2 separate regions of the Homo sapiens genome follow, and region 2 is linked to region 1. Evidence: fine-mapped expression QTL. A gene starts in region 1. The other region holds a variant in brackets. All regions are shown on one strand. Distances are between the middles of the regions.

Region 1 (5,372 bases):
GACCCTGTCTCAAAATATGTTTATTTATTTATAAATAAAATGAAAATAAAAATTCATCCCTATGTGTGTGATTTCTAATATGCATACTAATTAGTTGAATAACACAAATATAGTTTATAGGCAAATATTTATATAATTTTATATAGTCCATTGAAGGCTCTAATTTTTTTTTTTTTAAATACGGAGTCTCACTCTGTCGCCCAGGCTGGAGTGCAGTGGCGCAATCATGGCTCACTGCAACCTCTGCCTCCCGGCTTCAAGCGATTCTCCTGCCTCAGCCTCCCAAGTAGCTGGGATTACAGGCGCCCGGAACCACTCCCAGCTAATTTTTGTATTTTTAGTAGAGACAGGGTTTCATCATATTGGCCAGGCTGGTCTTGAACTCCCGACCTCACATGATCTGCCCACCTCGGCCTTCCAAAGTGTTGGGATTACAGGTGTGAGCCATGGCACCTCGCCCAAGTTTTTTTTTTTTTTTTTTTTTTTTTTTTTAAGTATAGTCCATAAATAAGGTTTCCAGAACTAGGCACTGGCCAGTCGCAGGTGTGGAGGCGAAGCACCTCAGAGGCTGGGTGTAGATAAACTGGGAATAGCTGTTGGTGGCCCCTGCTGGTCATTATAGGAAGTGCACCATCACTCAGTGCAAAGCCTTACCTGCTGGAAATTTGTAACACTTTTGAGTTTTATTTTTCTCTGTGCCTTGACTCCCAAAACTCTGGGCTGAACACCACCATAGGAATACCTTGATTTTGGGGGAAGGAGATATACTACCTGCACCTTTATGACCTCTGAGGCTGAGGCAGGGAGGAAGGCAGAGCTAATTACAAACCTCAGAGAAGGAGGACTCATTCCCCTCTTGAGGTAGGGGGCAGCCCTTAACTACTAGGGGATGCATTGCCGACCTTCAAACCTGCTTCCCTTCCCAGCTACTCCATTGCCAACCATTAGCAGCTCTATTCCTTTGGGGAACAGCTTAGGACACACTGCACCTTTATTATGGCATTCAGCTGTGCTACCAAGAAGCGCTTTTTGTATCTATGTAACACACTCCTTTCCGACTTCAACCCCAGACTGTGAACTCTAGGAGGTTAGGGCCCTTATCTCAGTATCACAGTAAGTGGTACCTTGCCTGGCACAGAAGAGGAGCATCCTATTCTGCATCAATAAATGTTTCTTCTCATTCTGTAACTGCACAAGGCTGTTGTGAGAATGAAACAATTTGTCAATTGTAAGGTCCTGAACAGATGTGAGAGGCTGGCATTCTGCAAGGCCTTTATTAGAGAGATACTTGTTGACCGACGAATGCAGTGGGGCAGCCGCTAAGAATAATGAGTTGGGCTCCACCTCCCCAGGTGGGCCAGAATCTGAGATCCCAGACTGTCCTGAGGATCCTAAATGGAATGGAAGATTTGATGTGGGTCGCTATGGAGGTAATAATTGCTTGATTAAGAAGTAATTAATATCTTGTAGAGATTCAAGATCCTTCCTCTTCCAAAATACAAATAGCTGAGTGATTTCCAGCCCAGAGGTGGACAGGTGACAGTGGAGGGTAGCCTTTATAATGGAAAGGGGAACTCTTCCTGAATTCAATTATAAGGATTTTCTAGGCCGGGTGCAGTGGCTCATGCCTGCAATCCCAGCACTTTGGGAGGCTGAGGTGGGCAGATCACCTGAGGTCAGGAGTTCGAGACCAGCCTGACCAACATGGAGAAACCCTGTCTCTACTAAAAATACAAAATTAGCCAGGCATGGTGGCGCATACCTGTAATCCCAGCTACTCGGGAAGCTGAGGCAGGAGAATTGCTTGAACCCGGGAGGCAGAGGTTGCGACGAGCCGAGATCATGCCATTGCACCCCAGCCTGGGCAACAAGAGCGAAACTCCGTCTCAAAAAATAAAAATAAAAAAGAAGAAGAAGAAGAAGGATTTTCTAGCTTGCAGATAGAGGAAAGAGCTGCAAGCAATGCGCTCCAAGAACCCTCTTTGTTTAGAGACCAAAGCCTGCAATTCCTGTCAAAGCTATCTGGGTTCGATGGCTTTCTTCTCTCAGTAAAAGCCTGGGTCACCTAAACAATGTGGTTTTCAGCAGTTCGGCCGCCTCTGTGGCTTTTTCCTATATCCAAACTTATACCCTTGGAACTCAGGGGAGAGCTGAGTCTTGGAACCCAGGGACCAGTCCCCTGCTTTCGGGATAGATTCCCATTTCTGAGATTTCCAAGCAAGTTTCCAGAATGTAATCCATTTCTTTTCTTTTTGTTTCTTTTGAGACAGGGTCTCACTCTGTTGCCCAGGCTGGAGTGCGGTGTTGCAATCTCGGCTCACTGCAGCCTCAGCTTCCCAAGTAGCTGGGACTACAGGCGCGCGCTACCACGCCCAGCTAATTTTGTTTATTTTATTTTTTGTAGCGATGGGGTTTCACTATGTTGCTTGGGCTAGTCTCGAACTCCTAGGCTCAACCGATGCTCCCGCCTCCGACTCCCAAAGTGTTGGGATTATGGGAGTGAGCCACCGCGCCCGGCCAAAGATGCAGTCCATTTATGATCTTAGGAATCCAGTTAGCAAGGAAAAGGGATGACTCTCACATTTTGTTCAGGGCAACTGGACGGGGTGGCTGAACGCCGAGGTCGGAGAAGTAGCGTAGCTGGCCCCAAATGCTAGTCGCACTGCACAGAGCCTCCCGTATTTGGAGGCCCAGCATCTTTTACTAGCAGATGTGGGGTGGAGCCGGAGGCTGGGCGAAGGCGGGCCAGTGGGTTTAACCCTTTATTTACTTTTTGGGCTGGGACTCTGAGGAAGGCTAGCCAGTTACTTCTTTATTCCATAGGCAGGAAAATGGACCAGGCCTCCCTCACCTAGACCTAAAAGAGGCTCTCGAATCCTTTCAGGAAGACATTTCCTCTTTTTTGCAAAATTTCTGGAAAGTCTGGAATCCGGATATCCACCCTCTGAGTCCTTAAAAAGCTGCCCCTGATCCCGAGGCCTTCTGGGGCTGGTATCCTGCTTCCTGGGAGTCTCTCTGAAGTCCTCCTATTCTTTTTCTCAATATGGAAGCAGGATAACGAGGAAAAGTGAGGCACGCCTGGAACTAGAACGCCGGTCTAAGCCAAGATGGGTGGGCGGAGTAATCAAGCCGGTCTCATTAGGCACTTTTACCATCGCCCCTTTAAGGGATCCTTGGGAGCCGAGGGGCACCAGCGGGTACTGGTACCAGTCCTGCCTCCCTAACCCTTCCCAGTGGGACTCCAGCAGGGCGTCGTGGTCTGTGCGGTGTCTCCCAAACCACTACCTGGCTGCCCCCGTACCAGCTGCTGGGAAAGACTACTTCCTCCGAGTTGTGCCGGCCTCCGCGTTCTCCTCACCTCCCCTCTCCTCCGGACCTCCGCCCCCTCGCGGAGAGGCCTTGCCGCTTTAAGAGCCGGGCTAGCGATTGACAAGCAATAAACGCTGAGCGCCCGGCTGCGCTGGAGCCGCCCGGAGCTAGGGGCTTCCCGGGGCGCAGGTAGGCGTCCCCCGGCCCCCGGGCCAGCTCCTATCCCAAGACCTCCGCCTTCTTTTCGTCCTGACACGGCACTTAGGACCCTATTCACTGGGTTTAAACTCCACAGGCCCCTTTCACCCAGGCCCGTTCCCTCCCTGTCCACCCGCCCCCGCCCCTGGGCCCTCTTTCTGGGGTGCTGGTTGGGAGAACCAAGCCCCGCTGCCCATTGACACTGGTCCCCGCCCCTGCGGTAGGGGCTCCAAAGTGGCTTCAGGCACCAAGGTGGTGAGCTGTGAGGGGCCCCGGTATCTGCGCGGCCTCCCCGGGGGCTGTGCGGGTTGGGGGTACTTAGAAGCCCGGCATTACGTAAGAACCGTGCTGTTAGCGCTTCCGGGGGTTGGGGAGCGAGACAGAGGTTGCGCTGGGTCCCGGTGGCCCCCTGGTCCCCCTAGGCAGCTAACACCACAATCTTCCCTGGGAGGGGGTCCGCAGAAGGGCGCGCGCTGCTTCTCCCGCTTCCCAAGCTGTAGCGGGGCGGGTCGGGAGCCAGGGTTAGGGTCTGGAGACTTGGGAGGGGACCGGTGCCAGAAGCGAAGAGCTAGGGTTAGAAAGTTAGGTCAATTAAGGGGGGGGCGGTGCGGATAAAGACGGGGTGGGGGTTGGCCGGGGCAGTCATTTAGTGACCTCATCCCTGGTCTCCGGCGGGCGCGCACGTAGAGAGCCTTCTTTGATGGCTCACAACACGCCCCCCTCCCCCAGGTCCTAGCGCCCAGGGTGTTAGGGCTGGGTCCGTTGGGGCAGGGGTGATCTGATGGTCCAAGCATGCACGTCCGCCTGGCCTTTCGACCCCATCCTCTGGCCCTCAGTTCTGTCCAGACCTCCCCGCGACCTCTCGCTCTCCAAAGCGCCTTTGTCAGACCTTTCTTCTCCGCACCTCTTTGTATGTGTATGGATGGAGGGATGGGTGGGAGGTTGGAAGAAACCTCTCCCTTTCACTGCTGGTCCGCTCGCCTGCGGACACTATGGGTGATGTGGATATCTCGGAGGCAGAGCTGAGAGGGCATCTGGGCCCAGGCTTTTGGAAGCCGAGGTGCAGGTTCCCAGATGTCTGGGTGCAGGACCTTGGCACGGAGCCAGGCTAGCTTGCCTGGCACTGCCGTTCTCCTGTGGACACAGCCAGGCCCCGCCCTCTCAGAGGCTTGGACGGGCGTGGGGGAGCAAAGCCAGCCGATGCTCTGGGAACCGATTCCCCGGGAGAAAACCCAGGCAGGCTGGGCAAGACTTCCGAGCGCAGGGATTTCATACAGGATCCTCCCTGCCTTTTCCCGCCCTCCACGCTCTAGGGAAGGAGGACTTCTGGAGTCCCTTCTCTGACCCTGTGAGGGAGAGCAGCGCCAGCCAGGAGAAGGCTCCAGGTCATCAAGGCCTGGGAGGGGGAGGGAAGGGATCCCTCCTCCCTGCTCTCTAGGAGTAGAGATTGGCACCAGGGGCACGGGCCAGCACAGTGGATCCTGGGCATTTCTTCCAGCCTGGGTGTAGCCTGAATAGGGGTGCCCTTCCTCTCCCTGAAAGCACCTTTATTCCATGTCCTCAGCGGCAGAGCTGGGAGGAAAGGGAACCATCCCCCTCACTTTTGTAATTTCTGTCACCTGAGCTCAGGTGACCAGCTCAGGCCTGAGAAGGGAATGGGAGCAGAGAGGGTTTTATTGAAATCAGGTACTAGTCCTCTGGGAAGAATCCTCTTTTGGGGGGAGGTGGAGTTGCCGTGGTTCCCCCACCCCCAGGACTCAGCAGGCATTCAGTCCTAAAGTGGGCACTGCCAGATGCTTCCCCCCACTCCCCACCCCTGCTGTGAGCCACTGCCTCCTGTTGTCATGGCAACTGGGAATTAGGGT
Region 2 (5,372 bases), 35 kb after region 1:
AAGGGAGTGGGAAGGAAATGGGGTGTTTTCTTGCTGACCTGAGGCTATAGGGTCACTTGCCATTTCCTACCTTCTCTGGGGGATTTGAGGGTAGAGGCAGGGGAAGATCTGTTGTTGCAGCTGCTTCTGCCCCCTTGATCCAAATGACCATCATCTCTGATGGAGATGGGTTGGGTACCTGGCCTTCATGGCACCTTCACTGCTAGGGATGCTCAAGGGGCAGGCCTGGGGCCCTTCCCTCCTGTCTCTTCTCGGTCTTTCCTCTCTGAGCAGCCTCCTACCTCCCCTGCCTGAGCCCTCACTCCACAGCCCTCCCAGGTACCTAGCAGAGGCTGTCAGTCCTTGGCTCACCTGGAACAGGGCTGGGGCTGGGTTGGAACAGGTGTGTGCCCCCACCACAGCTCTATGACTCTGTTCTCCCTCCCTGCCATTGTGGACTCTTGTATTTGAGGGACCTCAAGAGAGTGAGGACCCTACCATCCACTGTCCATATTCAGTCCCAGCCCCAGTGCGCTTCCTCTGTTCCCTCCCTCAGCCATCCAATTCTTGAGTTTTCTCACTGATTGGTTTTCTTTCTTTTTCCTTGGATTAAATGTGAAAGCAAAGGCTTCTGGCTCTGCTTTTCTTTGGTTGGGGTTGGATGGATGGCTTTGGGAGAGAGTGAGAGCTGGGGAGCACAGCACAGATGACTACTAGAATGGAAGTCAGAGCAACATGTCTTGTTTTCTGCGATGTCTTCCTTTCCTCTGTCTTGCCCCTGCACACTCCCCCATCCCCAGAAGATGCTCCTTCTAAGTGCTTGTACCCAAGGACATGAACAGACATTTCTCAAAAGAAGACATACAAGTGACAATGTATGAAAAAGTGCTTTACGTCACTAATCATCAGAGAAATGCAAACCAAAACTACCATGAGTTACCATCTCACACCAGTCAGAATGGCTATTAAAAGGTCAAAAAATAAGAGATGCTGGTGAAGTTGCAGACAAGAGGGAGTGCTTATACACTATTGGTGGGAACGTACATTAGTTCAGCCCCCGTGGAAAGCTGTTTGGGGAGTTCTCATAGAACTACCATTCATTCCAGCAATCCCATCACTGGGCATCTACCCAAAGGAGAAGAAATCGTTCCACCAAAAAGATACCTGCACTTGTGTGACTGTCACTATGGGACTGAATGAAGGAGGATGTACGCCACTTGTGACAGTTACTACAGGACCGAACAAAAGAGGACAAATGCAGAAATGAAAACAAGACAAAAGAATCTGCTTTAAAGAAGGGGTCCTTGCTTTTGCTTCTAGTGAGCAAGGGCCCTGAGCTTCCACAGCCCTCCATATTTATTGGGTAGAAAGAGCAGGGAGGAGCAGGTAACCTTTGGTCAGCTGCTTGATTTATCACAGGTTCACATAATTGCTGACAGGCTTCATGTGTGCCTGTAGATAATCACAAACACTGCGCCTGAGGTGTGACTGCCCTCAGCATTCCTTCTGGGTGGCAGACGCAGTTTGTCAGTTTGCCAGCATTCTGCATTATGAGAACAGTTTGCTCATACAGCCTCCAGTGGTATACTGAGTTGATCATGACCCTCATTCTTTCGGCCTCCAACATCTCCCCCTTTTTGTTTTTACATTAATTGAACAAAATCTGTCCTCATGTTATGGGGGTTGATGTCAGTGTGACTCTGGTCAGTCCTCACTCTGTCTTTGCACTCAGATTCAACTGGCTCATGGCTCATACCAGGGGAACCAGGCCCATGGTTGGGATCCATGGGTCCCTCCAGTCTCCTGTTCCATGGTTGCACACACCTTGAGGGCACCCACATGGTTTGTCCATCTCCTATAAAAACATAAGCATACCCTCGTCCCCACGTTAGTAAATCTATAGGCAGTGGGAAACATATTCTGAGGTTCCTTAATGCTTTTCCTACAAAATGCTGACATGACGTAGGACTGCTGAGCATGCCTTGGGGTAAAACTTTCCATTGATAATGAGAAACAGGCTTTCTCCAATCAACAGAAGGCACAGAAAACAAATCGAGGCTTATCCTTCTCGTGTAAAGGTATAGTAAAAAAAAAAAATCTCCAAGATCCATTACTGCCAGAGGCCAGTCTCTTGCTCCCGTATCCATAAGCCCACAAAACTTTTAATTTGCACTGCACAAGTGGGTCTACTAGATGCTATTGGTTGTGATAGATAAATGTCCCTCCGAGTTGTACTTCCAAATCCTTGATTCCCTTGTTTCTTCTTTCGTGGAGAAGGGTGTAATTTGCAGGAGATAAGCAACAGTTGAGCAATATATTCTCCCAGTTCAAAACCCAAAGATCTTGTAACATTACCACTACTTGAATTTCTCCTTCATAATCCAAATTAACAACTCCTGGGACTACAGTAATGCCCTGTAAGTTAAGACAGCTTTTGCCTAAAATTAATCCCATGTATCCTGTTGGCAAAGGTCCACAAATCCCAGTGGGAATCTTCGTGGATTTGTCTCCTCCAACTAAAGTAACACATTCTTTGACTGGGA[G/T]ACCCAATCCTGTGCTTCCAGGTGTTCCTGGGGAGAGGGAATCAATGTGCCTCCGGAAACCCACCCTTGAAACGGAGTTGTGGGCTGGACTGGGGATGCCCTCATTGTTTGAGGTGCCCACATCCAGGCCCCCTTCTCATTTCCCCACAGGGGGGTGCTGTTTTGATGAAATTTTGAATGGCATTGATTAGCCCAATCATTTCCTTTATTGCAAAGGAGGGCAAAGTCCTGGTGTTTTTTTCTATTGTGCGGGAGGGAACTGTATTATAAGATCCCTTCTTTCCAGAGATCTGACGGCATTCTTTTTTGAAATGTCCAATTTTTCCACAATTATAACACTTTCCCACTTTAGGGTTTGACCCTTGGCTCCTTTTAGGTTTATCAACTACTAAACTAGCCATTGCTTGAGCCAACATTGTAGAGCGATGAAGCTCAATTCCCACATCTTGACAAGCTCTGAGAAAATTTCCTAAGCTTCTTGTACATCTCACAGGTGCCAGTGCATGCTTACAATCCACGTTTGCATTCTCAAAGCCAAAGTTAAAGTTAGTATTTCTGCAGCCACAAAAGAAGACGGTACAGGCCAATCTTCACCCTCCCTCTCCTATTCACCGCCCTTGATAGGTGCTGTGGGTGGGGCAAAAAATTCTTTCAAATTTTGAAATAATGACAAAAGGACAGTACAGACCAAACCCCAAACAGAAAAAACAGAAAGAATGGACAAATTCTGCCCCATGTTACCCTGATTCAGAAACTTCCCGCTCCCAGTACCTCTTTAGGGACCTGACCTTATATCCCAGTACTTTTTTAGGGCACTGACCTTATATCCACTGCCAGCAGACTCGTTCTGGGGTTTCTCGTTCGTCTGGCCAGTTTCACTTTCTCTGCTCCAGCGGACCCTCCTCGTTCGTGTCCCTGTCTGTCCCTGTCTGTCTCTGCTAGTCTCTACGAGTCCCTGCAAGTCCCTGCTTGTCTCTATCTGTCCCTGTCTGTCCCTATCCCTGTTCATCCCTGTTTGGGCACCACTTGTGACAGTTACTATGGGACTGAACAAAAGAGGATGAACGCAGAAATGAAAACTTAAGACAAAAGAATCTGTTTTAAAGAAGGGGTTGGGGGCTTCTTGCTTCTAGTGAGCAAGGGCCCTAAGCTTCCACAGCCCTCCATATTTATTGGGTAGAAAGAGTAGGGAAGAGCAGGTAACCATTGGTCAGCTGCTTGATTTATCACAGGTTCACATAATTGCTAACAGGCTTCAGGTGTGCCTGTAGATAATCACAAACACTGCGCCTGGGGCGTGACTGCCCTCAGCATTCCTTCTGGGTGGCAGACGCAGTTTGTCAGTTTGCCAACATTCTGCATTATGAGAACAGTTTGCTGTTTGCTCATATAGCCTCCAGTGGTATACTGGGTTGATCACGACCCTCATTCTTTTGGCCTCCAACACACTTGTATGCTTATCGTAGCACTATTCACCATAGCAAAGACATGGAATCAACTTAGGTGTCCATCAGTGGTGGGTTGGATAAAGAAAATATGGTACATATACACCATGGGATATAATGCAGCCATAAAAATAGTGAAATTGCTCCTGTACTCCCAGCACTTTGGGAGGCAAAGGCGGGTGGATCACCTGAGGTCAGGAGTTGGAGACCAGGCTGGCCAACATAGTGAAACCCTGTGTCTAGCAAAAATACAAAAATTAGCCAGGCATGGTGGTGCGTGCCTGTAGTCCCAGCTACTCAGGAGGCTGAGGCAGGAGAATTGCTTGTATTGCAACCTGGGAGGCAGAGGTTACAGTGAGCCAAGATCACGCCACTGCACTCCAGCCTGGGCGACAGAGTGAGACTCTGTCTCAAAAAAACAAAACAAAAAAAAAAAACATGTCCTTTGCAGTAACATGAATACAGCTGGAGGCCATTATCTTAAGCAAATTAACATAGAAACAGAAAATTGAATACCATATGTACTCACTTATAAGCGGGAGCCAAACATTGGGTACACATGGACATAAAGATGGCAACAATAGACACTGAGGATGATAAGAGGAGGGAGGGAGGGAAGGAAGGAGGGAGATAAGGGTTGAAAAATGACATATTGGCCGGGCACAGTGGCTCATGCCTATAATCCCAGCACTTTGTGAGGCCGAGGCGGGCAGATCACCTGAGGTCAGGAGTTCAAGACCAGCCTGGCCAACATGGTGAAACCCCGTCTCTACTAAAAATACAAAAATTAGCCAGGTGTGGTGGCATGCACCTGTAATCCCAGCTACTTGGGAGGCTGAGGCAGGACAATCACTTGAACCCGGGAGGTGGAGATTGCAGTGAGCCAAGATCGTGCCATTACACTCCAGCCTGGGGGACAGAGCAAGACTCCATCTCAAAAGAAAAGAAAAGAAAAGATAAACTACATATTGATGACATATTGGGTTCTCTGTACACTATTTGGGTGACAGGTTCAATAGAAACCCAAACCTCAGCATCACACAATATGCCTATGTAACAAACCTGCATGTGTACCCCCTAAAAATCTAAAATTAAAAAAAAAATGCCTGCACCCAGGTGTCTGCGAGCATTCATGGGGCTCGAGGACTCAGACATGCTGTGGCTAATTCACTCAGCTCCACCTGGAACTTGTGTGGCCCCCAACAGGTCCCTCTACCTCTCTGGGCTTCAGATTTATCTTCTGTAAAAGTGTCATGGACCCTCCCAGTGGTAACACTAGGATTGCTTCCAGGTACTCAGAAACAGGGGCCATAGGTGACATCAAAAGAGCACCCAAGGGCGATGTTTGGCAAATCCTTCAGGGTTAAGGGATCAGCTTTCTTCCTAAATGAGTTATTCAGCGGAG

Which allele goes with the higher level. Alleles are on the strand shown, and positions count from the first base shown. SD is a standard deviation of normalised expression in the study named.
With allele T in place of G in region 2, the expression in esophagus muscle of the gene that starts at base 3,436 in region 1 is higher (small effect, 0.30 SD a copy in GTEx).

The links. PIP is the estimated chance that this variant, and not a neighbour inherited with it, causes the effect.
Region 2: its variant is the best candidate, but not a certain one, in a credible set for the expression of MPP2 in esophagus muscle (GTEx, PIP 0.63).

What each region holds. Positions count from the first base shown.
Region 1 is chr17:43,905,600-43,910,971 of GRCh38, reverse strand. MPP2 (MAGUK p55 scaffold protein 2) reads left to right here and starts at 3,436. Exons shown (of 13, transcript NM_005374.5): 1 at 3,436-3,498. RefSeq lists an enhancer at 3,277-3,426.
Region 2 is chr17:43,870,593-43,875,964 of GRCh38, reverse strand. It overlaps MPP2 (MAGUK p55 scaffold protein 2), which reads left to right. Exons shown (of 13, transcript NM_005374.5): 13 at 1-605. Among named protein-coding and RNA genes, the nearest start is that of CD300LG, 26 kb to the right of the region's middle. The variant G/T (reference allele first, on the strand shown) is at 2,523.